Linked DNA regions of Homo sapiens. The protein of the gene in region 1 interacts with the protein of each later gene in a pairwise test. Each region holds a gene or a part of one and is shown on either strand. Other genes may lie near its edges. The genes, in order: LAMP2, DLX3, MAGEA8, CAPN2, SUCNR1, SNCA and EPM2A.

What was found.
Region 2: the proteins of LAMP2 (region 1) and DLX3 interact in binary tests that used the Homo sapiens proteins (3 or more experiments, as listed by UniProt).
Region 3: the proteins of LAMP2 (region 1) and MAGEA8 interact in binary tests that used the Homo sapiens proteins (3 or more experiments, as listed by UniProt).
Region 4: the proteins of LAMP2 (region 1) and CAPN2 interact in binary tests that used the Homo sapiens proteins (3 or more experiments, as listed by UniProt).
Region 5: the proteins of LAMP2 (region 1) and SUCNR1 interact in binary tests that used the Homo sapiens proteins (3 or more experiments, as listed by UniProt).
Region 6: the proteins of LAMP2 (region 1) and SNCA interact in binary tests that used the Homo sapiens proteins (3 or more experiments, as listed by UniProt).
Region 7: the proteins of LAMP2 (region 1) and EPM2A interact in binary tests that used the Homo sapiens proteins (3 or more experiments, as listed by UniProt).

The regions. Positions count from the first base shown.
Region 1 is NC_000023.11:120,452,297-120,455,796, reverse strand, and holds part of LAMP2 (lysosome-associated membrane glycoprotein 2 isoform A precursor), read left to right. Parts: intron 1-226; coding exon 227-440; intron 441-3,500. UniProt on the Homo sapiens protein: Lysosomal membrane glycoprotein which plays an important role in lysosome biogenesis, lysosomal pH regulation and autophagy.
Region 2 is NC_000017.11:49,992,425-49,996,528, forward strand, and holds the start of DLX3 (homeobox protein DLX-3), read right to left. Parts: upstream 2,801-4,104; 5' UTR 2,575-2,800; coding exon 2,250-2,574; intron 1,167-2,249; coding exon 976-1,166; intron 1-975. UniProt on the Homo sapiens protein: Transcriptional activator. Activates transcription of GNRHR, via binding to the downstream activin regulatory element (DARE) in the gene promoter.
Region 3 is NC_000023.11:149,880,052-149,883,982, reverse strand, and holds the start of MAGEA8 (melanoma-associated antigen 8), read right to left. Parts: upstream 2,801-3,931; 5' UTR 2,698-2,800; intron 1,616-2,697; exon of another isoform or gene 1,485-1,615; intron 913-1,484; exon of another isoform or gene 634-912; intron 162-633; exon of another isoform or gene 1-161. UniProt on the Homo sapiens protein: Not known, though may play a role in embryonal development and tumor transformation or aspects of tumor progression.
Region 4 is NC_000001.11:223,747,039-223,750,538, reverse strand, and holds part of CAPN2 (calpain-2 catalytic subunit), read right to left. Parts: coding exon 3,374-3,500; intron 1,501-3,373; coding exon 1,417-1,500; intron 1-1,416. UniProt on the Homo sapiens protein: Calcium-regulated non-lysosomal thiol-protease which catalyzes limited proteolysis of substrates involved in cytoskeletal remodeling and signal transduction. Proteolytically cleaves MYOC at 'Arg-226'.
Region 5 is NC_000003.12:151,876,643-151,880,142, reverse strand, and holds part of SUCNR1 (succinate receptor 1), read right to left. Parts: intron 292-3,500; 5' UTR 251-291; coding exon 236-250; intron 1-235. UniProt on the Homo sapiens protein: G protein-coupled receptor for succinate able to mediate signaling through Gq/GNAQ or Gi/GNAI second messengers depending on the cell type and the processes regulated.
Region 6 is NC_000004.12:89,726,381-89,729,161, forward strand, and holds part of SNCA (alpha-synuclein), read right to left. Parts: intron 281-2,781; coding exon 248-280; 3' UTR 1-247. UniProt on the Homo sapiens protein: Neuronal protein that plays several roles in synaptic activity such as regulation of synaptic vesicle trafficking and subsequent neurotransmitter release.
Region 7 is NC_000006.12:145,624,805-145,627,520, forward strand, and holds the end of EPM2A (laforin), read right to left. Parts: coding exon 2,612-2,716; 3' UTR 921-2,611; coding exon of another isoform or gene 891-920; 3' UTR 501-890; downstream 1-500. UniProt on the Homo sapiens protein: Plays an important role in preventing glycogen hyperphosphorylation and the formation of insoluble aggregates, via its activity as glycogen phosphatase, and by promoting the ubiquitination of proteins involved in glycogen metabolism via its interaction with the E3 ubiquitin ligase NHLRC1/malin.

The DNA.
Region 1 (3,500 bases):
CAGCAGCTCAAGCCAGTTTTCCTTTTCTTTTTAGACATACACGAATTTATCCAGAGGAGTGGTATGTAGCAGAAGAATCAGGGACTGGTTTACACAGCAAACCAGGCAAAGGGCAACCTGGCCATGGAGAATGTATGATTTAGGCTGAAGTGGCATGCCCTACATAAATGCTTGGTGTTCCTTGCTGCCTGTTTGTTTCTCACCCCCAAATTTCTATTTCTTTTAGAAAACTGTAACCATTTCAGACCATGGCACTGTGACATATAATGGAAGCATTTGTGGGGATGATCAGAATGGTCCCAAAATAGCAGTGCAGTTCGGACCTGGCTTTTCCTGGATTGCGAATTTTACCAAGGCAGCATCTACTTATTCAATTGACAGCGTCTCATTTTCCTACAACACTGGTGATAACACAACATTTCCTGATGCTGAAGATAAAGGTAACCTTAAGAATGGATTTGTGTTATGTTCTCTTGCTTTTTATTAATGATAAAAATGTAAACAATTTTAAAATTGTTATGAATGTCTGTCTTCCTAACTAGCATGGAAACTTCATGTCTTTATAACCCTCCCACTGACCCCATGCATGGCACATATGACACCATCCAACATACTGATGATATTTGCTGTCATTGCTTGAGTGACTTACTGTATACCAGGTATTATCCTAGTATACAGTAAGTCACCTTACTATATATATCCTAGTATACATATATATGTGTATATATATACATATATATGTATATCCTAGTATATATGTATATATATATATACACATATATCCTAGTATATATATACACACATATCCTAGTATATATGTATATATATATCCTAGTGTGTGTGTATATATATATATATATATCCTAGTGTGTGTGTGTGTGTATATATATATATATATCTCCTAGTATACAGTAACACACCTAGTGTGTTACCTGCAGCATCTCACTTAATTCTTAACAGCAACCCTGGGAAGTAGATGTTGTTTCATTTTTACAGGTAAAGGAAATGAGGCTTGATAAGATTAAATGACTTTTCCAAACATCACACAGTCTGGTAAGTGGGCGAGCTGGTGTTTGAAGCAGTCTATTGACCTGCAGAATTCATATACTTAACTATTATTGATTTCATTCAGTAGTGTGCATGAAACAAAGGTTTGATGAATGAGAAAATGCTTTACTAATAGCTACTTTATTTTCAAGATCGGGGGTTGGGGGGGGTGTCTCACTATGTTGCCTAGGCTGGTTTTGAACTCCTGGATTCAAGCGATCCTCATGCCTCACAGCCTCCTGAATAGCTGGGACTACAGGCATGCACCACTGTGCCTGGCTACTAATAGCTATTTTAAATGTGTAAAAGTTAAGTAACCTGAGACTAGGAGAAATGCCTCTTGTTCAAATCTTTTTATCATTTAGGTTGGATTTTGATTGAAAAGTAAATGATGATTAGTTAAAGGTGTAGTAGTCCCTCATTACACTCAGGGGGTATCATTCTAAGATCTCCCGTAGATGCCTAAAACTGCAGTTACTACTAAACCCTATACAGGAAATGCTATGTTTTTTTTTTTTTTTTGATCTGATAACTGACATGGCTACTAAGTGACTAACGGATGGATAGTGTAGACAACGTTGATATACTGGACAAAGGGATGATTCATGTTCCTGGTTGTGCAGAGCGGGACAGCAAGAGATTTAATCATGCTACTCAGAATGGCGTACATTTTAAAACCTATGAATTGATTACTTTTGGAATTCTCCATTGAATATTTTCAGAGCTCAATTGACCATGGGTAACTGAAACCAGGGAAAGCAAAAACCGTGGATAAGGGGAGACTAAAGTCAACATTTGCTGTTATTTTAAGACAATTTCAGGTCAAAATGAACTTGGGAAGCATTGGCAATTAGGCCATTCTAGTAATTCCCAGAACTGAAATGCGTGTTAAAATATTTTGAAGATATAGAGTGTAGAGATTTTATTTTATTTTATTATTTTGAGCTGGAGTCTCGCTCTGTCGCCCAGGCTGGAGTGCAGTGGCCTGATCTCGGCTTACTGCAACCTCCGCCTCCCAGGTTCAAGCAATTCTCCTGCCTCAGCCTCCTGAGTAACTGAGATTACAGGTGCGTGCCACCACGCCCGGCTAATCTTTGTATTTTTAGTAGAGACAGGGTTTCTCCATGTTGGCCAGGATGGTCTCGAAATCCTGACCTCACGATCCACCCACCTCAGCCTCCCAAAGTGCTGGGATTACAGGCGTGAGCCACCGCACGTGGTCGAGATTTTAATTTTGTTAGGGATATAATTCTCTTCTTTCTCCCCCTGCCCGTTGAGATTGAGTTAATGTGGTATTTGTAGTAGCTTAGCTCTTTGCAGATAGTGTTTCATTCTGACCCCAGAAACAGGTAGATGGGCTTTAGTTGCCTAGACCTGGGGATTAATAACTCATTTGGACTTAAGGATGTCAAAAGATCCTATTCGAAAGAACCAGAAGTAAATAAGCTCACGTAAAATTTGGGAGGTATTGCAGAATGAGACTTGGAAATCAAATCCTAGTGTTCTTTTTACTAATCTCTTAGTTTGAGAGTATAACTAAAGCAAATGGTTATTGGCTATCTTATCAGTTTATCTTTGTGCCCTGTTTTGCCTTTCAGAGCTAGTATAAGATATGCCCCTCACTTTCAAGTAGCCTAAGAATGAGCTGGGGAGACAAAGCTAAATGCTATTCCCGAGTTACATGGAAAAATTGGAAAACATTGAGCTCAGTCTGATTTTGTTGTTGTTGTTTGCGTTTTTGTTTGAGGGAGTAGAGGGTTCATAAATCTCTTCTGACAGTGTGAGGAAAACTTTAGACTCCCTCTCAAAAAAGAAAAAGTACACAGTAAACTTTGCATATGGAACATAGTCCCTGAACCCATATGTAGATCCCTGTGGTTAAGAGTGCCTGATTTAGGTCGAGAATGGTAGCTCATGCCTGTAATCCCAGCACTTTGGGTGGCCGAGGCAGGCTGATCACTTGAGCCAGGGAGTTCAAGACTAGCCTGGGCAACATATTAAGACTTTGTCTCTACAAAAAAAAAAAAAAAAAAAAAGCCAGGTGTGGTGGCGTGTGCCTGTGGTCCCAGCTACCTGGGTGGCTAGGGTGGAGGATCGCTTGAGCCCAGGAGGTTGAGGCTCCAGTGAGCTGTGATCCCACCACTACACTCAGCCTGGGTGACAGAGAGAGAGAGACCCTGTCTCAAAAAAAAAAGAAAAGAAAAAGAAAAGACTGGCTGATTTAAAAGTGTTCCCGTGTTCCCACAAGTGGTCCTGATTAGGAGGAGTGATAAAGGAAGGCTCAGTGTGTGTTAGAGTAGTGAGAAAGCTTGGTAGAGAAGTAGGACCTGAGCTGAAACTCAGCTAATGGTAGAATTTGAGTAAGCGGAGGATTTTGAGCAGGATGTTTCCAGCAGGGGGAAGCATAGCATATGCGGCAGTAATTGGAGAGCTGCCTGATTAAATCAGGCTGT
Region 2 (4,104 bases), on another chromosome or scaffold:
GCAGACACAGATACACCCAGATAAGCACCCCACAACATGAGCACCCACATTCACACACTCAGGTGTGGAGAAGTTCTCCTGGGCTCGGGCTGGATAATGGGGGTGACCTGGGGACTCAGGAGCAGGTGAGCCATGATTCCCCAAATTTCCCCTGGGGTATCTCCCCCTCCCCCTGCCACTCCCCACCCCATGACTGGTACAAACAATGAATCAGCTCCTCACCAGGTGACCCAGATTCCCGGCGGATGGGGCCCCACGCAGCCACAGCCACAACCTAGGCCCGCCTGTCAACACCTGGAGGGAGCCAGGCATCCACTGCTCCTCCCCTGAGCAGTGACAGGCTGCTGGGGGCTTTAGGGACTGGATGAGGGTGGGGGTGCGGCACTCACTTTTGAGTCCCCATCTCCTTCAGGTAGGGAATTTGGCCTCTCTTGAGCGTTCAAGTGCTGAGCAGGAATGTGGTATTTTGATGCAAGCACACATTTCTGAACATGCATTCAGAACGCATATACATTCAGGGCGCACAGTCACACACACATGCCCCCATCGTTATGCACAATGACCCCGGCAGGATCACACTCCTTACATGAGCATCCTCCGGTGCATGCAGACCCACACAGCATGTGTGCAAACACACTCGCCTATACATGCACACAGACAGTCTGCACACATGCCTAGCCTGGAGGGAAAACACGATGTGGACTCCTACTAAGTGACTAGCACTGCTGGGGGACTTGGGAGCTGGGAATTCTGGAGTAGGGGAACATACACAGTTGCACGGGTTCACAACTATGCTCACTTGTACACGTGCTAACGCAGAACCTTCCCACCGAAGTTGAACCTCGCAGGCCCCCATCCCAAAGGCAAGAGTTCCAGGAGCCCGCAGGGCCCTTCAGTGGCCAGCCAGGCTCGGCAGCGCGCGGGGAACTACGGGGTCCCGCGCGCCCCCGCGGCCCTGGACAGCCAAACACCAACCTGTGTCTGCGTGAGGCCCAGCTGCGCGGCCAGCTCGGCGCGCTCGGGCAGCGCCAGGTACTGGGCCTTCTGGAAGCGGCGCTGCAGGGCGGCCAGCTGGTAGCTGGAGTAGATCGTACGCGGCTTTCGGACCTTCTTGGGCTTCCCATTCACCATGCGCACCTCTGCTTCCGGCTCCTCCTTCACCGACACTGCGGGGAACGCACCGGGCGGAAGAGGGGGCGGTTCAGCCTCGGCCTGCGACTCCTGCGACCCTCCAGGGCCCCGCCGGACGCCCCTCGCTTCCGCCCACCGACTCGCCGCGGGATTCCCGGCCGCGCGCTCCGCTGCCCGCGGCCCAGGGGGGAGCCGCGGCCCCAGAGCCAGAACTGGCCGCGGCCCACAACGCGGCGCTCCCAGCTCCGCGCCCGGCCGCCGCAGCACTGTCCCCGGCGCCAGCCGCCGCCTGCGCCAGGACCGCCTCGGCTTCGCTCACGACGCCTTCCCGGCTCGCCTCCCAGCCTCGGGGCTCCTCGCCGCCCGGCTGCTAGCCGCCCCCTTCCCAGTCCCATCTCGCCGTCGGTTGTTTCTCTCGCTCCTTCCCGTCCGCCCCCCGCCCTTTAAAAAAGTTTCATTTTAGAATCTCTTTAGATTTTCAGAAAAGTTGCAAGGATAGTGCAGACTTTCTTTCTTTCCCTGTCCCCCTTCTTCCCCCCTTCCTTCTCTCCTTCCTTTCTTGTTTCTTCTGCCCTTTCTCTCACTGTCTTTCCATACTTCCCTCTTGCTGCCTTCACTTTTCCCTTTTTCAGCTTCTCTGCCTCTCGGTGGCTGCTTCCCTCCGCTTTCCCGCAACTTCCGTGGGTCCTTCTCATTGCCCCCTCACGACTCCTAGTCTCCCCATCCCTTATCCAAAGGAGGGCCCCTAGAGTTTCCAGCCCCTGCCGCCTACCCCCAAGCCCTCTGCGACTTGATCGAGGATCGCCTGCTGAAATGCCCACGAAATCACCTCGATTCGGAGGTTTCCTAACAACCCACAGCCTTCCCCTTCCTCTCTCAGCTCATCCCGATCCTCATCCGGGACCGCGGCGCACTGCGCACATCGCGCCCCAAATGCTTGCACACCCGGGGCTGGAAGGTCGCCTGGTCCCTCTGAGGGTCATCTAGGCCAACTTCTCTAACTCCAGACAGTACTTTTCTTAGAAGTTTTCCTAGATTTTGGCTTCCAGTCCATGCCTTTTCCTCCCTCGGGAACCTTCCAGTGTCTCCCACTGTCCTCGCGACCCCGTGGCCCTCACCTGGGTCCTGGGCTGGCAGCGGCTGCTCCCGATACGCCCCGTATTGCCGGTAGGAGGCTCCGTAGGTATATTCCGACTTGGGCGAGTAAGCGCCCGTGCCTGCAAGCCCATTGAGATTGAATTGGTGGTGGTAGGTGTAGGGGTTCACCGTCTGGCCATAGGGCTGGCCCGAGTAGTAATCGTGCTGGGGAGCGCTGTAGTAGCCCAGGTCAGTGACAGAAGACTCGGGCAGGGTAGGCGAGTCCTTGGAGCCCGCATGGCAGCTAAGGGAGCTGGAGATGTCGGTGAGGATGCTGCTGAGCTTGCGATCGAAGGAGCCACTCATCCTGGCGGGCGCTGCACCTCCCCAGGGCTGGCCTCCGCAGAGGACAGGAACGGACCGGAGTGCGAGAGAGGCGGAAGAGACGAGGCAGGGGTGTGTGTCCAGAAGGCGAAGGGAGGACCCGGCCGCGTCTGGGGGGAGGGGGAGGCCGAGAGGCGCTTACACCATTGCCTGCCGTCAGGCGGTCGCTGCGCGCCTCTCCTCGCGTCCCAAGCCACAATCAAATGCTGCCAGCTCCGCCCGGCCAGCCGGTTATAGACTCAATAGTGGAGTCGCCGAGGGAGGCTCCTACGCGCTGATTGGCTGCAAGTCTTGCCTTCCAGGCAAAACACGCTTTTGCTCTCTCGCTCCTATGCTCTCCTCTCTCTCTCTCTCTCCCTTTTCCTTCTCTCCTCCCTCCTCTCTCTTCTTTTTCCCCAGTCTTTGTTGTTACTCAAAACACACACACACACACACACACACACACACACCCTCGCTACTCTTGTAGCTCCAGCCCAGATAAGTTCTCTGAAGGAGGGGCGTGGAGGTGGAGGGGAAGGGTTGCTCTGTGGAGCCCCCAGGATCTGTCAGTCTGTTTCTCTGGCTGGGGGATGAGAGATGGGCTTAGGTGAGGTGGGCAAGGAGGGGAGTTTGCCCATTGTGTGTTTGTGGAAAGAGATGGTCTAAGGTGGGGTATGGTTGTGTGTGTGTGCACACGTGTGCACGCACTGTGCAAATGACAGGCACACAAATGTACCCAAAGTGGTGAGGACTCACAGCCCCTGAAAATGGTTTCTCTTAAAATCAGAAGAAAAGGAAAACACCTTTTAGGTGAAAGAGAATGTTTGAATATATGATATTAATATATTATCTTAATAGCAATGCAGTCATTGCTATTATATCCTTGTATTACATAATTACAAAAACGTAATTTAAAAAATTTTCTTTTTATTTAGGAAGGTGCCCACCGGGCAAGAATGTCTTGAGCCTATGAAAGACATAATTTAGCACTAGGAGGATCCTATTGGAGAAGGGGAAGCAGACCTGTGTGGATTTAGAGGTTGTTGGGGATGTACAGCCTGTCCGGTGATACCAGAACTATCTCCAAAGCTATGTATGTGCAGTTTCACAGATGGCCCAGTCTTGCTGAAGGTAGCAAGGGACCTGGGGTCCCCACGAGGTTGGGTGGACACAGGCTGGCTCTGTGACTGTGTGCTTCAGTAAGTCTGAGGGCAGATTTTGTGTATCATGGGACAGCACTGGGGAATTGGGACACTTTTGGGGACTGGGTGCATGGGACGAGTGTATTTGGGGTGTGTGATGTGAGGATTTCATGTGTTCCACAGTATCCACAGAGGTACATGCATGCAGGAGTGTGTCGGGGGCGGGGTGCAGGCAGCATGAGTGGAGGGCCATCCGCGTGTGAACATGTGGTTGTAGGCAGATGTGTCTAGACCGCTTAGTACCTTCCTCATCTCCAGTAGCTGGGAGCTGTACTGCTCCACTGAATTCCTCCTGCACCAGAAAAGCCCTGAAGAATGGCTCCCCTCTGTG
Region 3 (3,931 bases), about 29 Mb from region 1:
AACTGTGGGGTTCCTGCTGTTCTGATGCCAGAGGGGCCTCTGGTATACATACAGGGGAAACACCACCTCAGCTTGACTGCTACTACTGCCTGGGCCTCTTATGCTCTGTGATTGAAGATACTGCCTCAGACCAAGACCTCACAGCCTGGTTCCTGGAGCTCCTAGAAGATAAATCGAGGGGAACTCAGGCTGCAGACTGCAAGCACAGCCCCAGCACCCCAGTGCTGTCAGGAGGGTGAGCCTGACTCTGTGAGCTCCCCACTATTTTGTGTGGATGGTCCTTTCTGTGCTCATTCAGGGCCCTCATCTTTCTCCTGGCAGGGCCTGGATCTGGCCCTTTTGCTGGCCTGAGAAACTTTCAGATCAAGAGTTTATATCCCTGATATGGAAGACAAGGATATGAAGGGACCCACATCTGGCCCCACATGCCCAAGGCCTCCTGGGAAAAAAGCAATAGCTACACAAAATGCAATGGGGCCCACGTGTCCTGTCCTAGGGTGAGAAAAAAGCAATAGCTACACAAAATACATTGGGGCCCATGTGTCCTGGGCTGACCTGAGGCCACTTCCTTAATCCAAGGACCTATCTCCAGGAGACACTGGAAGAGCAAATGAGGGGATTCCATCCACCCACCTTTCCCTGCACTTCCCATGGCTGACAGAAGGTGCAGGGTGGGGTTCGGTCCTGTGTGTTTGGTGAGTGGTGTCCTCTGAGTCCCTGACTCCTGGCAGGGCCTTGGACCCCCGCTCTGCTGACCTGAATGCAGTGCCCTCAGACCAAGGCCTTCTTCTCCCTGAGACCAATGAGTCTGGTATAACACAGGGGCCTCAGCTGATAGTCCTGCTCATGCTCTCAGGGGTGACAAAAGAGGCCGGGCAGATTTCTGTTGGGCCCCCATCTGTTTTTTGCCTGCTAGGAGAACCATCGAGGGTACCCTCAATCTTCCCTCAGTGTTGTCACCTAGACTCTTGGTAGATTCTTGGACCACTGAGTCTGTTGCCCACATGGGGGTCCCTGTTTTGTCCTGAGTTGCCCTCTGAGAACAAGGTCCTCACTTCCCTGAGATCTCAAGAGAGAAATGAGGAGCCACCACATCTGATGACCACTGGGTGGGGTGTCCAGGGGTGACACTAGGATCTGTCCCTACTTGTTCTTGAGTGGTGGGTTCTAAGGTCTTCAGGGGGTTATTCATCTTTCCCCTGATGGAGCCCGCCCTTCCTCAACCCACAACACCCTGATATGAGCAGACATCTCCCCTTACCACCAAGACCTTATCTTCCTGCGTTTCCCCAACTTCCTGCCCACAGTACAGATGAGATCTCCACTTAGGGCCACCCTTGATCGGGTTCCCCCAGAGATAATAACCAAAGTTAGCCAGACTTTGTGGGGTCCCTTCTTTCCAGGCCAGGAGTACCCCCATTCATCACAAAGTGAGCACATCTTGGGTCCTGCAGATCCTGTGACCCCGTCCCTCTGTTGAACAGGTGTGGCTCCCTCTGCTGAGCTGAGGACGCCCTTCAGACCCAGGTTGCTACCTCCCTGAGACCCAGGAGGCAGAAGTAAGGAGGCACTACATGGACAACCCTGCATGGGATTCCCACGGCTGACAGAAGTAGTAGGTTTCATGGGGTCTTTCTCTGTCTGGGTGTCATCCAGGTATTCATATTTACTCCACGACAAGGCATGGCCCTTTCCTTCCTGCTGAACCGTGGATGTGTCTTGCATGCCAAGGCCACCATCTCCTTGAGGCCCCCTACCAGAAAGTGGGGGGGCCACATCCCTTCCCCACTGTCCTGCCTTGGGTGCCCAGACCTGAGAGTGGGAGCAGGTTTCCTAGGCCATGATGGGAGGTCTGCTGAGTCCTCCTTAAGGGCTCTGGGGCACCTCTCTCCAGTGATCTGAGACTCCACTCCTCAGACCACAGCTGTCTCCTTTCTGACACCCTGAAAATGCAGCAAGGATGCGCCACATGCAGCCACAGATCCTGGGACTTCCCAAGGCTGAGATCTCCACTGATCTGGAGTCCAAGGACCCCTGAGTCCTCCCTCTTCTTCTTCTCCTTGACTCCTGGCAGGGCTGTTCACCACCCCCCTGCTGACTTGAGTTTCAGTCCCTCGGATTCCTGAGGCCAAATGTGGAGGCCCCTCAGTCTCAGACAGGTAGGGTGGGCCCCCTGTCCTGGGGTCCTGGGTCCCCTCGGGCCTCCTCATCTCCCAGCATAGCCTGGGCCCTCCCTCTGCTCCTCTTGAGTCCGTGCTCATGAAGCCCCTTTGCTGCATCAGCCCCGGATGCGGACGTCAGAATCAGCGAGCCCGGCCGCCATGCCCGGCCGCCATGCCCGGCCGCCATGCCCGGCCGCCATGCCCGGCCGCCATGCCCGGCCGCCATGCCTAGGGCTTCCCAGGGCTGACAGTAGGGGCAGAGATGTGCTCTGTGGAGCCTCAGCCCTCCCTCAGGGTCCTGCCCTTGATGCCTGGCAGAACCTGGGCCCTGCCCTCTGCTAACCAGCCCTGCTCTGGTCACACCAAGCTCTCACTCCAGATTCCCCTGGGGCTTAAGCGCAGGGCTGGCGAGGGGTGGCCCAGCCAGACAAGTCTGCCCCCTGGTGGTCCAGGGCTGGCAGCAGGGGCGGCGCTAGATTATTTTGGGTCCTATATGAGGGGTGGGGGCCTCCTCAGTCCTCCCTCAGGGTCTCACCTTGCCTCCTCACAGACCCTGAGCCCGCTTCCCTCAGCCGATCTCAAGCCGACCCCTCAGAACCAGGCCCTCGCTTCTCTCTGATCCCCGCGGCCACGTCAGTGGCGTCACATCCGTCCACCCAGGGCTCACCTGGGTGGACAACAGGGGCGGAACCGGATTCTAGTGGGGCGGGGGATGAGGGAGGAGCGGTTCAGTCATCCCTCAAGGTTCTCACTTTGAGATCTGGCAGAGCCTGGAGCTCCGTACTCTGCTGATGGTGTCTGCTTCCCTCAGACCAAGGTTCTGATTCCGAGTCCCCTGAGGTGGCAGTGGGGGGAAGGGTGTGGTGGGGGGACAAGGCTGCTGGGGTCTTTCAGGGCTGACATGAGGGTCTGAGCTGAATTATGTGGCCCCTCTATGTGGTGTGGGTGGACCCTCAGTCCTCACTCAGGAGGGTCCTCTTCTTGACTCTTGGCTCTTTTAGGAGATACTCTGTTTCTGTCACCTCTGAGCATTTGCACAGCTGCACCCCTTGCAGAGAATGGCTGCGGGTCCCAGGCCAGATTCTCCCTGTGGGTTTGCAGCACCTAAGATTGTAGTGACCTCTGGGAGAAGAGGCACACCTTCCCACGGGGGCTCTTCCCCAGCTAGAAGAGGATTTTGCAAAACTTTTGTACTAAATGATTTATTTTTACACTGAAGAAACTGAGTAGCTGCAATAAATTTGTGGAAGTCCTGAGTTTTGAAGTTACCTAACAATTCCTATTCCACTTTAGTGATTTTCATAATTTAATTCGCATTCGTATAGTAAGAAACGAATTTTAAATCTATGCCAATTGTATATGTGCATTATATTTATGTTTATATGCATAAACACATATGTATGTATATGTTTATATTATATATGTGTAATTATATGAATGTATGTGTATATATCTTTACATATATTTATACATATATGTATGTCGACTATACGTACTTATTTTATCAAACAATATCTACTCATACAATGTGTGATTCACTCATACTATTCTATTTCTAGTTCATTATATATATTTGATTAAAATAATAGTATTTTGGAAGGTAGTCCTAACCTACTCTTTGTTTCTAGTTGTTATTAGCAGAATTCTGGAGCCATGGTGTCTCAATCAATCCAATTTTCCTGGTGTCCTGATATTACCCCTGGGCTACTGGCTTCGTGTTTTGAGGTGCAGACTCGGATCCTACATTGATGTGGGGTGGTCCTTTAAAA
Region 4 (3,500 bases), on another chromosome or scaffold:
GTGATAACAGGCACATGCAGTGAGTGAATCTGGATTGAGTCCTGGATGGGGTTGGGGTGGGTCGCCAGAAAGGACATTTTGGGCAACTGGGAAAATGTTAGTATAGACTTTATAATAGATGACACTACTGAATTAATGTTATTTTCTTAGGTGTGGCAACAGTAGAGGAATTATGTAACAGAATGTCCTTATTCATAGGGAATAAATGCTGAAGTATTGAGGAGGGAAGTGTCATAACGTCTGCAACTTACTTTCATATGGCTCAAAAAAAGTGCACACATAGATAAAGCAGACATGGCAAATGTTAGCAATCGGTGAATCTAGGGGAGTGGCAATTGGATAGTTATTATGTTAGTCTTTCAACTTTTCTGTATACGTGAAAATTTTCAAATAAAAAGACGTGTGTGTGTGAGGGGGTAGTTAAAAAAATCAAGGTTAAAAAAAGAACACTGGACATGCAGAAGATCTGCGGTCTAGACTGGGTTCTGTAATTAACAGTGAACTTGAGTTGCTTGATAATTTTTTTTTTGAGACATGGTCTTACTTTGTCGCTGAGGCTGGGGTGCAATGGCATGATCATGGCTCACTACAGCCTCGACCTCCTGGGCTCAAGTGATCCTCCCACCTCAGCCTCCCGAGTAGCTGGGACGACAGTGGCATGCCACCATGCCCAGCTAACTTTTTTTTGTAGAGACAGGTTCTTGCTACGTTGCCCAGGCTGGTCTTGAACTCCTAGGCTCGAGTGATCCTCCCACCTCGGTCTCCCAAAGTGTTGGGATTTCAGGTGTGAGCCACCATGTCAGCCCATAATATTTTCAATAACAACAGTGATCACAACAGCAAGGACAGCTACCTCCTTATATATGATGTGTGAGTCACCTCTGAGCACTTTACATATATTAACTTGATTGAATCGCCACGACCTTCCAATGGATATTATCATTATTTCCATTTTTTAAATGAGGAAACTAAGGGACAGAGAGTTCCAGTAATTGGCCCAGGCCACACAGCTGGTAAGAGGCAGTCAGATTTGAACATGGGCACGAATACTTTTACGAGATCAAAAGAGAAAGCACCTTATAGAGTATAAAACACTATGAAGATGCATTGTTTTATTATTTTTAGCTTATCAAAATAGTAAGGTTGTAACTGTAAAACAGGGTAACATCTAAAACAAGTAAAACCAGGGCCCCTGGCGCCGGCCACTGCGGCCACCAGGTGGCAGCGCGGCGCACCCGGCGCCCGAGCTGCGAAAGGGACGCCCTTCTCCTCCCGCGCGGAACTTCAGGAGTGCGGGGCCCGAGTGTAAACTGGACCACCGTGGGGCCGCGCGGGCCCCTGGGCATCACCACAAACTGTGCCTGTGGCCATCGTGTCAGGACAGCAGGACCCCTGCACATCCGCGCCGGCCGTTACCTCCTCGGCTCCGGTGACCGAGTACGCGTGCCCCTTCACCAGCTTCTGAAACGTGATGGCCTCCGAGTCCGCGGCGCTGGTGATCTGCAAACACAGCAACCGTCAGACTGGCCGCACCCGCTCTCCCTTCCTCCCGGACTCCCTCGCTCCCTCTGTCCTACTGCCGGGCGGGACCGCCGGACGCACTAGCGCAGCGGCCGAGGCCTGGGGTGGGAGGCTCAGGGCTGCGCTTTCTTGCACTTGGAGAACCTTTCCTACCCCGTTCAAATGCTTGAACGCCGAGAATACCAGAGAAAAGGCGGAATGCAACCCTCTCGCGGAACGAGCACAGGCATTCCCGTGTGAATAGCGCATCCACGGATTTCTGCAGGCTGGGAAGGGCGGGAAAGGGCGCACGGCCGAGAGAGGGCTGGAGGGGGTCCTCGATGGCGCAGGGAAAGGGCGCACGGCCGAGAGAGGGCCGGAGGGGGTCCTCGATGGCGCAGGGCTGATACCCAGACAGCCTTGAGTGGCCCAGGGACACTGAGCACACCCTCGCCCCACCACCAGCCCATGCTCCGTGGTCTGGCCCAGCCCAGCTGTAGGGTTTATACTAGGACGGTTGTTTATTCCGGTCTGAGTCAGAATTTGCTTCTGTTTTAAGAACGCCTCACAGCCTCTCCTTTCCCCTATCTATTCTGATGAAGGTTGAGCCTGGGAAGAAGGGCTGGAGCAGAAAGGGTCTTCTGCCTCAACGTGTTCTGCTGATAAACTTTGAGAATTCCTGCCTAGGGAGTCTGACCTAGATTTTGGCTCCAAAAGCCAGGGCTTCTTATCTCTGTCCCCCGCAGAGACCAGAACCTGGATGGGACAGGGCTCAGAGGTTGGGCACAGCCTTTGCTCCAAGGCTCCTGGGCACAGTGCCCACCTCCCATCCCCTGGTGAGCGTTGCCAGCAAGGCTATTATGAGGAAATCTTTCCTCCTCTTCCTTCCGAAGTCTCCCACGGGCCTATTAGCTCTGCAAGAGTGCAGGGGAAGGCTGCACAGCACTGCAGATGGAGGGGAAGGTGGCAGGGGCAGCAGGTGGCAGGGGCTCCCAGGGAACCTGTGGTCAGAGGGGTGGGGGTGATTCAGAGCAGGCTAAGAGTGGGAAGTGGACTGAAGACAGAAGGGCTGGAGGCACCATCACCCCATCCATTACACCCCAGACAGCTTGACTTTTGCCTAGCAACCCTTGGCTTCCAGGTGATGAGCAATAATGGTAGACACTGGGGTGCTCAGAAACCAATACCTCTAAGAGATGGCACTTTGAAATGCTAAACTGAAGAAGCCTCAAGATCTCTCTGACCTCCCCTTTCCTTCTGTCTCTCGATCCACTCTCCCCCAAAGCACAGGAGGAAGCTATTCTCTGAAGTTCCCTCACCTGCCTAAAGTCTGGACCTGCCAAAGATGAAAACAATGACGTCTGGTCCTTTCCATGAGTTATTATGAACTGAACTCATATTGCAGGAAGAAAGACAAGTCTGTCAACATGGCTAGACAGACTTGTCACAAACCACTGTCTGCTCTGCAGGCCCAACAGACTTTATCCCAGACCATTTATGTTCTTTAAGCCCAATGAATTCCCCTAAAAATCATTTACGACATCCCTAAAATCATCCGCACCTCCCCATCTCCCTTCCCCTAAGAGGAAGGGAATATAACCCTCTGTATCCCAATGCGTGGTAGGGAAATCTCTTGTGATTCTCCCCTGTCCACATTCATACATTTGTATGCCATTTCTTGTATTAGTCTTCCTTTTGCCAGTTGATTTTCAGCGGACCTTCAGAGGGTGGAGGGAGGTTTTCCTTTGGCCCCTACGTGGACGAGGGCTGCATTACGTTGTACACAGGAGCAGTGGGTTCCCTTGGGCACTGTGGGAGCCTCCCTTCAGCAAGAGCAGATGGGGTGAGGCTAGGGAAGGCAGCCTGGACTTACGTCGATGGAGCAGCCAAGGAGAGAGCCTTTTTGCAGAGCTTTCTGGATGATCTTGAACAGGTTGGGAGGGGGCTTCTTCAACTCATACCACTCAGCAATGCCTCCGGTGAAGTCTTCGAAGCCCTCA
Region 5 (3,500 bases), on another chromosome or scaffold:
ATAAGGGAGAGGCTTTTATACAAGATGACATTTAAACAAAAACCTCAATGAAGAAAGTGAAAGAGACATATCTATATTTGCAGGAAGTGTTCCAGGCATAAGAAAGAGCACATGTGAAGGCATTAAGGTGGAAACACAAATAGAGGGCTTGGCAAATAGCAAAGAAACAAAGGGAACGTATGATAAAATAATTGAAGAGAAGATTTTGAATTCACTTTTGTGTCTCTAAACATACCATGATCCCCAGCATGTCGTAGTTGTTCAACAAATTCTGCTGAGTTAAACCATAACCTAGAAGAGGAAATAAGAATTTTTAGAACTTCAGTCTCACTATTTTAAGCTTTTACTTGTTTCCATATTGCCAAAGAATTCTGCTTATTGTATTAAATTCATAAACTATGATACAACTTCAGTTTTAAAACTTAATTTTTAAAAATTCAAAATATGAAACTGAAAATCTTAGTAATATTAACATTGGTCATGATTTATTGAAAGATGCCATGCCTCAGACTCAGTAATTTATAAAAAAAAGAAATTTATTTCTCACAGTTCTATAGACTGAAAAGTCCAAGATCAAGGTATCAGCAGATTTGGTGTCTGATGAAAAGTCACCTTGTGCTCCAAAGATGGTGGCTGCTGTGTCCTCACAACAATTTCAGAAGGGGCAAGGCAGCTCCGTTAATCTTCTTTCACAAGAGTACCAATCCCATTCATGAAGGTAGAGTCTTCATGGCTTCATCACTTTCCAAAAGGCCCCGCCTCTTAATACTATTAGGTTCCAACATACATTTTGAGGAGACACCAATATTAAGACCATGGCATTTGCCTAGGTCATATGCTTAGTGAAAGACCTTTATTGTAATGCCTTCTGAATATGTACCATGGAAATAAGCAACCTGACTCACTCAAACCTCAAGAGTCTTGCTAACCTACTGTTTTTAACTCTTGTCAAGAGGCCAGATTGTGATTGGATAGGGTATTTCAAGAACTTTAATTATCTGAAAAAAGTACTGGATTGCCATTGTTAAACATTAAGTGTTACTTATTTCTAGTGAGGAAAACCAAGGTTGAAAACAAAATGTTCTAAAAACCTCTTTGTCAAGTAGGCTTCTGAGTATTAGTTGCAAACAAACAATTCTTTCAATTTAGAATTTTGGTAAATAGAACAAAATAAGAATAAATGCACCTAAACTGCTTTTTATGAGAAGCATGCAAAATTCAGTAGAATTTGCTATGATAAGGCATCTGGAAAACTCATGTATTTTTGTCAAATTCAAGTGGTTTACTTTAGTTAAAGATCATTGTTATTTTGAGAGTGTTTTATTTATGAAAATAAGTCACAGAATTGTAGATATAAGTTTAATATTTTGAAAAGTTATTTTTAATCACTTACTTTAAAACATTATACATTTTTCGGAGTCTCTCGAATCTCTCTATGGCAACCTGCCACTAAGTCCAATTCCAGACAAAGCTGAGTGGAAACTTTCTCAAGCAGCAGACACATGAATGCTGCTGAAGAATAAAGCAGATGGGTTTCACTCTGTCTTTGAGGTCACCTAATTCTACCGCTCTCTCATATTGCCAGCATATTCCTATATTTCTCAATTTCATATTTTTTTATCTCTTAAAACTTTTTTCATTTACTCTACCTTACTCATTATTAGCAAATGGTTTTACCTCCTAGTTCATTGAGATAGAGAGCATTTGTTGAGCTTACTCTAGATCCAACTCATTCCCAAATTCTCAGTATTCCCATGGTACCATTATTTCTTCTTTTCTGACTCTTCAGCATTCTTCTCCTCATCGTCAGTCTTCATGTCCTCTTTTCCATTAGAATTTAAACACTCTCATCATTTCAATCTTACAATAAGGAGCAACATAAACAACTCTCCCTAGTTTCACGTGTTCCTCTCCTCTTCATAGTTTGATTTCTGGAAAGAGCCATCTCATTAAGTGTTTTGACATCTCGACACCCCATTCCCTTTCAACTTACTCCAATTTGGCTTCGGACCTACCAGTCCTCCAAGTAGCCTCCACATTGCTCATTCCAATAATCATTTTTCACTAATCTTATTTTATTTATCAGTTGTTTTTCATACTCTGTCTTCTGGAAACACTCTTCTTTTGCCTTCTGAGACATGACAATATCCTAGTTTCCCTTCTTTCTCCCTGGTTGTTCTTTGCAGGCACTTTTGGGGCTCAAGTCTTCTTGGCTCAAGCAATAAATGTTGAGTTCCTCAAGGCTAATTTCTGGGCTCCTTCTTTTCATAGATTCTTCCTAAATGATCTCATTCACTTTTGAGGTTTAATGACCAACTATACATCAACAACTCCCAGATTTCCAGCCCAGCTTGTATCTGCCTTACAAACTATAATTGTTTATTGCCATTGATTGATTTCTCTCAGATGTCTCTGCCTCTAGAAATCCTACACCAAATTCTCCAAATTCCTTACCAAGCCTGCAGCATATCCACCAATTTCAGTAAATGGTTCTGCCATGTATCCAGGTGCTCACCACGAAAATCTAAGCAATATCCTCAAAGTCATCTAAAACTCAACACCAGTAATGAATAAACTACCAAGTCTGTTTACTGTAATGTCTGGGTATTTCTCAAATCTATCATTACTGCTCTATAGCTTTCATTATCATTCTCGTCCAGGCTACTCTTATCTCTATTTTGCTCTATGTCATATTCTGCTATTGTCTCCTCACATCCTCTCTGGCCCTCATCAGTTCATCTTTACCATTATAGCTAAACAGTCTTGAAAAACTACAACTCAAAATCAGATCATATAGCTTTCCTTGATCAAAACCCTTAATTAACTTTCCACTATCCAAGGAATATAGTCTAAAATCCTTAATGGGGACATCAAGGTCTGCATGATCTGGCCCCTGCACCCACTTCAATTTTGCTTGGCATTACTCTCCTCCTAATTCATCTTCCTTTCTTCCTGCTCTTTGAATGCACAGAGAGCCTTCTTAACATGCAGTCCCTCTATCTGAATCTCTTTTCACTGCTGTTTTTGTCCTGTGATTCCTGGCCCATCACATATTTGTCATATATCTATACTTCTCTCAGGCCTCTGTTCAAGTGTAGGTTTCCCAAGGTAGGCTGTCTGACCCTCAGTCTAAAGTAGGTCCTCCCATTTATGCTTTCATTGTATACTAAACTTCTTAGAATTTTGTATAACTTTGTCTTACTCATTTTTTATTGTCCACATCTGGCACAGTGACCAGCAGATAGTAGGTGATCTATAAATCTTTGTTGAGTGAAGAGATGAATATGAACACCTGACTATTTACAAAGCATTTTTATAAATATTTTCTCCAAGGCCAGATAAGCAGCAAGACCATCAGATTAAGCTCATTGCTTATTTCACTGTGAAAGTCAACACTATATATAATATAATATGATAAGTATTAAAAATTAGTAATTGTAGTAGTAGTAGCTGTAGTTTAGAAACACATTTGTATAAGGCAAAATTAAATATCTACCAGG
Region 6 (2,781 bases), on another chromosome or scaffold:
TAGATTGAAGCCACAAAATCCACAGCACACAAAGACCCTGCTACCATGTATTCACTTCAGTGAAAGGGAAGCACCGAAATGCTGAGTGGGGGCAGGTACAGATACTTCAATCACTGCTGATGGAAGACTTCGAGATACACTGTAAAAACTTTGAGAAATGTCATGACTGGGCACATTGGAACTGAGCACTTGTACAGGATGGAACATCTGTCAGCAGATCTCAAGAAACTGGGAGCAAAGATATTTCTTAGGCTTCAGGTTCGTAGTCTTGATACCCTTCCTAATATTAGAAAAATCAAAAAGACAGCACACACTGTTAGTATAAGTTTCAATTACGCATCAGCACTGACAGCCAATGAGATAGGAAATGGCTCCCCACTTACACTAAAATTTACAATCAATGTTTTTGCAAATATTCTGCAGCAAATATTATCTTATTTTTAATAGTTGTGTCTTTCTTGTCTGATATAAAAGTGAATTACAGTAGTAGTCAGAGTTAAAATATCTAGGTTCTGATCCGGATGCACCATTTAATGATCATATACCTAGTTTGGTAGGACAAATAAGTTGGACTGTCTGGTTCTCAGTTTCTTCACCTGTAAAATGTGAGAACAAAATCAAGCTGTCTATAAAGCCTTTTCCAGACTAAGATGCTCTAATTCTCAGAAGGAAATTAAGATGTTTGAAGGCAAGATACATTTTCCCTACTTTCACTCTCCCAGTTGAAAATTTCGTCTTCATCTATGGCTTCAATTATTACTTGTATTTCAAACCTCAAGCTCTCCATACAGTATCTGGATAGCATCCACAACACAAATATTAATGGATTTAATTAAAGGGATCAGATTATTCCTCCTAAAGAGCAACTCTAATAATATCAGGATTCTGCTTAAAAACAAACAAATAAGCATAACTTCAATAACTCAAGTTGTTTTCTGAATAGAATACAAGCTGAAATGACAAGATTATCCTAATACTCTATAACTTGTCTTTGACCCATAGCTGCAAATTCAATCTATCACCATTTTCCTTGTTCCTAAGCTTGAGTCATAATTATTCACTGTTCTCAGACATATCCATTTGCATGCTCAGACATACATGCCTTTGCTTCTGATATTCCCTTGTGCCAGAATGTCCTCTGTTTGTTTTGACCTACTATATCTCTTACCTTTTCCCACCCAGATCAACATTACCTCCTCAATAAAACTTCTCCTGATTGATTGAAACAGATCTTTAAAATGTTTTACTTTTTAGTATGTCTTATATATTTTTGCTCCTGTGATGCCTGGTACATCGAAGACAATCAATTATGTTTGTTAAAGGAATCATAATGAAGAAATGAATGAATGAATTTCTATTTTTTTTCATCAAACCTACCAGACTGTAAACTCCTTATGTCCTGGTAATGTCAATTACTCTATAGTTTTCCATTGTGTTTAGTACTGTGTCTTGCATAAAAGACCCCAAAATATTGGAAATTCTTATTAGGCAAACAAACAATTTAATCTCAATTTCTATAAGTTGAATTATTATCAATATGCCTTTCGTGTGTCTGTGTGAGACAGTCTTGCTCTGTTACCAAGATTGGAGTGCAGGGGTGCCATCTCAGCTCACTGCAACCTCTGCCTCCTGGGTTCAAGTGACTCTCATGCCTCAGCCTCCCAAGTAGCTGGAACCATAGGCGTGTACCACCATGCCCGGCTAATTTTTGTATTTTTAGTAGAGATGGGGTTTCACCATGTTGGCCAGACTGGTCTCCAACTCCTGGCCTCAAGTAACCTGGCCACTTTGGCTCACAAAGTGCGGGATTACAGGTGTGAACTGCTGTGCCCATCCTCGACATGCCTTTTAATAATGCCGTGAGGAATAATACATAACCAAACTACAACATACTTGAACTCAATTTTTAATGGAGCCATTATATAGTTTCTTTTCTTGTGATATCTTCATTTGGTTTTGATTATCAGGGTAATATTGGTCTCACAAAATTAGTTGGGAAATGTCTCCTCTTCTGTTTTGTAAGAGATATTAATTGGTGTTAACTAATTAGTATTAATTCCTCTTTAAATGTTTGGTAGAATTTACCAGTGATGCCATCTCGGCCTGGGATTTTCTTTGCAGGTAGGTTTTTTTTTTTATTACTAATTTAATCTATTCGCTGTGTTACAAATCTATTCAGATTTACTGTTTCTTCTTGGGCCAGTTTTATTCATCTAACAGTATTTTCTAATTTCCCTTTTGATACATTTTCTATTAAAGATACTTTCATTTTCAATCAAAATAAAATTAACAATCATATTGTGTTGTTTAAAACATTATACTGGAATATATCAATTGTCGCAAATCATGCATTTATCTTTTTATTCTATAACTTGTGTGGGTAACTTTTATTTTACTATGCGTCATCCCATTGGACATGTATGGCAAAAAATAATAACCTTCCTTTGGCATTCCATTGATTTCCCTAACTTTCCATTTAGAAATTTATTTTAGAATGTAAAGTTTCTAAAAATATATTCTCTAATGCAGGGGTTAGTAAACTTTTCCTGTAAAGGGTCAAGTAGTAAGTATATTAAGCTATGTGGACTACATATGATTTCTTTTACATCCTTTCTTCCTCTTCTTCATCTTCCTCCTCCTCTTTTTTTTTAAGGACCCTTTAAAAATGTAAAAACTATTCTTAACTTGCAAGTTGTCCACGTAATGAGCATGTAGAGAGCAAATGATTCTCACTAAGCACTAATGAAAGAGAAATGTGACAATGACAGGTTTTTGGTACTG
Region 7 (2,716 bases), on another chromosome or scaffold:
CATTATTTCTTACACCAAGCCAAGTGATTTTTACCACACCTTAATGATGGTCAAAAGAGAGTGTTTTGTGTTGTGTTTTACATTTTTCCTAATGCTGGCAAGCAGAATGATAGAAAGATAATGTTTCAAGTCTGAAAGAAAACCACCTCATTCAGACTTTCCTTCACCATGAATGAGATCTTCTCATGATTGCCTTTGAGAAATCCGTGATTGAAAAGTTTTGTTAAACACCAGTGACAAGCAGCTAATGGCATAATATCTGCTTTGATTTTCTCAGACACACTCTAAGTTTTCATCCTCACTTCTCTGTGGTCCTTCACCTTTGACTTCCTTTATCATGTAACTGCCAATTTTGATCGTTTAATTGAAAGAGGAAGAGTGACAAGAAAAATAAACAATTTAGCTCAGTGGATTGCCCCCTTTACAAATAAGGAAACAAAATTTGTCCTTCTAGATTTCAGACTAAGCTGATAACATTTTAAAAATCCTGTACAGAAAGGTCTTTTTAAATGCTTTTATTTGCCAAAAGTTTTGGGTGATTTTGAAATACATTAGACATCCCATTCATTGAGGAAAAAGACAGTTTATTCCAAAACATTCTTTAATAGTCCTAAACTGATTTTGTCTATCAGAGCAAAAGGAACAAAGGTAAAAATCCACCTGAAAAAAGATCTTTGTATCATGGAAATTATGAAGCTGGATTTCTTAGACATTAAAGAAATTCACAGACCCACATAGTTTAAAAATTTAATTTTTAAGATTAAATTTTCACAACACATTATGACTGTAAATGAGTTACCTGAATACCAATTATTACCTCTAGTTATTTTTAGCAAGGGAGCTGGACTTCACTTTACTTAATGCTAGCTTATAAATTTAACTTTGTAAAATTATAGTGGAAATGTGTCCTGGCTAGCTGCCTCTGCCCAAAGCAAATGTCATCTCCCCTAAGTGCCACAGTTCTATCTCCCCGTCCTCTGAGCTCCACTGAAACTTACCTTGTATCCTTCTTGTCCCCCACGCCTTCTAAATAAGAGTCTCTTGCATCTATCAATATGTGTTTGTGGAAGAAAGGAAGGTGCAGAAAAATAAATACGCATCATAGTTTAATTAGGAAAGTAAGGGCTTTGAATCAAACCCAGCTTTGTATCTCACTTCATCTATTTATTCATCATGTGACAATAGACAGTTGAGTTAACCCTTCTGACCTTAGTTTCCCCATCTTTATCATGGAGATAATGAGACCTTCTTCATTGGATATTGTGAAGATTAAACTGGATATGATTATATATCACCTTGCACATAGAGGCTCTCAATTAAAAAAACACTTCTCTTTCTTCTATTCTAGCATATCATTCATGGTCCAATCCTGCATTACAGTTGGTTGAATGCAGGTCTGTTTCTAGGCAGCACATTTTTGAAGGCAAAGTTGTTCATCTCTGTATTTCCTGTAGAACCTAGGGTGATGAGCTGCATAGTCTGGAGGCACAGGAACTGCATATTATACTAAATTGAGAGCTGAGCCAGGATGGCCAAGGCTGTGAAGCAATTATCCATGGATTTGGTCATTTGGGCTCTTTTGGTAGTATAGTTCCTCTCATGAATTTCCACTCTGGTCTTAAAACAGCCCATCATGTTTTTAAATTAGCTTGCACAAAATACAACTAATTTCCTAGATTCTTTGGCAACTGATCAGAATACTATTCTATGTCTCGCTATAGAAACTCCTGCAGGCATATTGACTATACCCTGAGAAAGACAAAACTAAATGCACTACATGATGCTGGGAAAACAAGTTGTGATGAAAACAGTGCTGAGTCAAATAAATATAGATTATTAACTCCAGCTTGCCCTTGACTGGTCATGAGACCTTGGACAAGCTACCTATGCTCATTAAGCCTCAATTTAACTTCTTGACATCTCAACTATAAAAAACAAGGGTATTTTTTGCTTTGTTTGGTAATTTTGAGGAAAAACAACAACAAATGAGAGATAATTCTACTTTAGTTGTTACACAGGGTTGTTGGGTAGAGAAGGAAGGTGATGCCTTGGAACAGACTTTAACAACTGTGAGGCAGGATAAAAAACAAGTCCTGAAAGCCATCACTTTTTGACCATAGTGAGCTCTTCTTTTGTAACGGTTCAGGCTTCTAACCTTATTTCCTCCTTTGGCAACTGACCAGCTCACGCACACATACTAGTGATGAAATCCACATAACTCCATATCTTTTCCTCTACATGGCCAAGAGTTTCAGTGCAACAGGAAAGTGCTGTCACGGATCCATCGTGCAACACATACAGTGCTGTAAAGCAAAGGCCTCGTCTGCCTGCAGGCAGCAGGAACTGCACGCATTACCCTTCTGTCTGATGTACAGCCTAACTGCTTCGTGCTTCTTCTCATGTGTTGAGCCACAGCTTTCTTGTAGAGTATTTCAAAAATACAGCCCCAAAACAAAGCATAATCGAAAGTCATCCCAGGTGAAAGTGGTTGGCTTGGGGGAGGTCACACAGTCCTTTCAGTTCAGGTAGAATCCTTGTTTCTAGGTCATTTGACCAACATCATCCCAGGCTCCTTAGGGAAATCAGGAGGGGGCAGAAGCAGGCTGACCAGCTACAGGCTACACACAGAAGAACGAACCTTCCCAAATTTCTGGAAAAAATCTTCTTGTGCCCGGGCCAAGGCCTCTTCGTCAATGTAGACAGCCGGCCTCTTGGC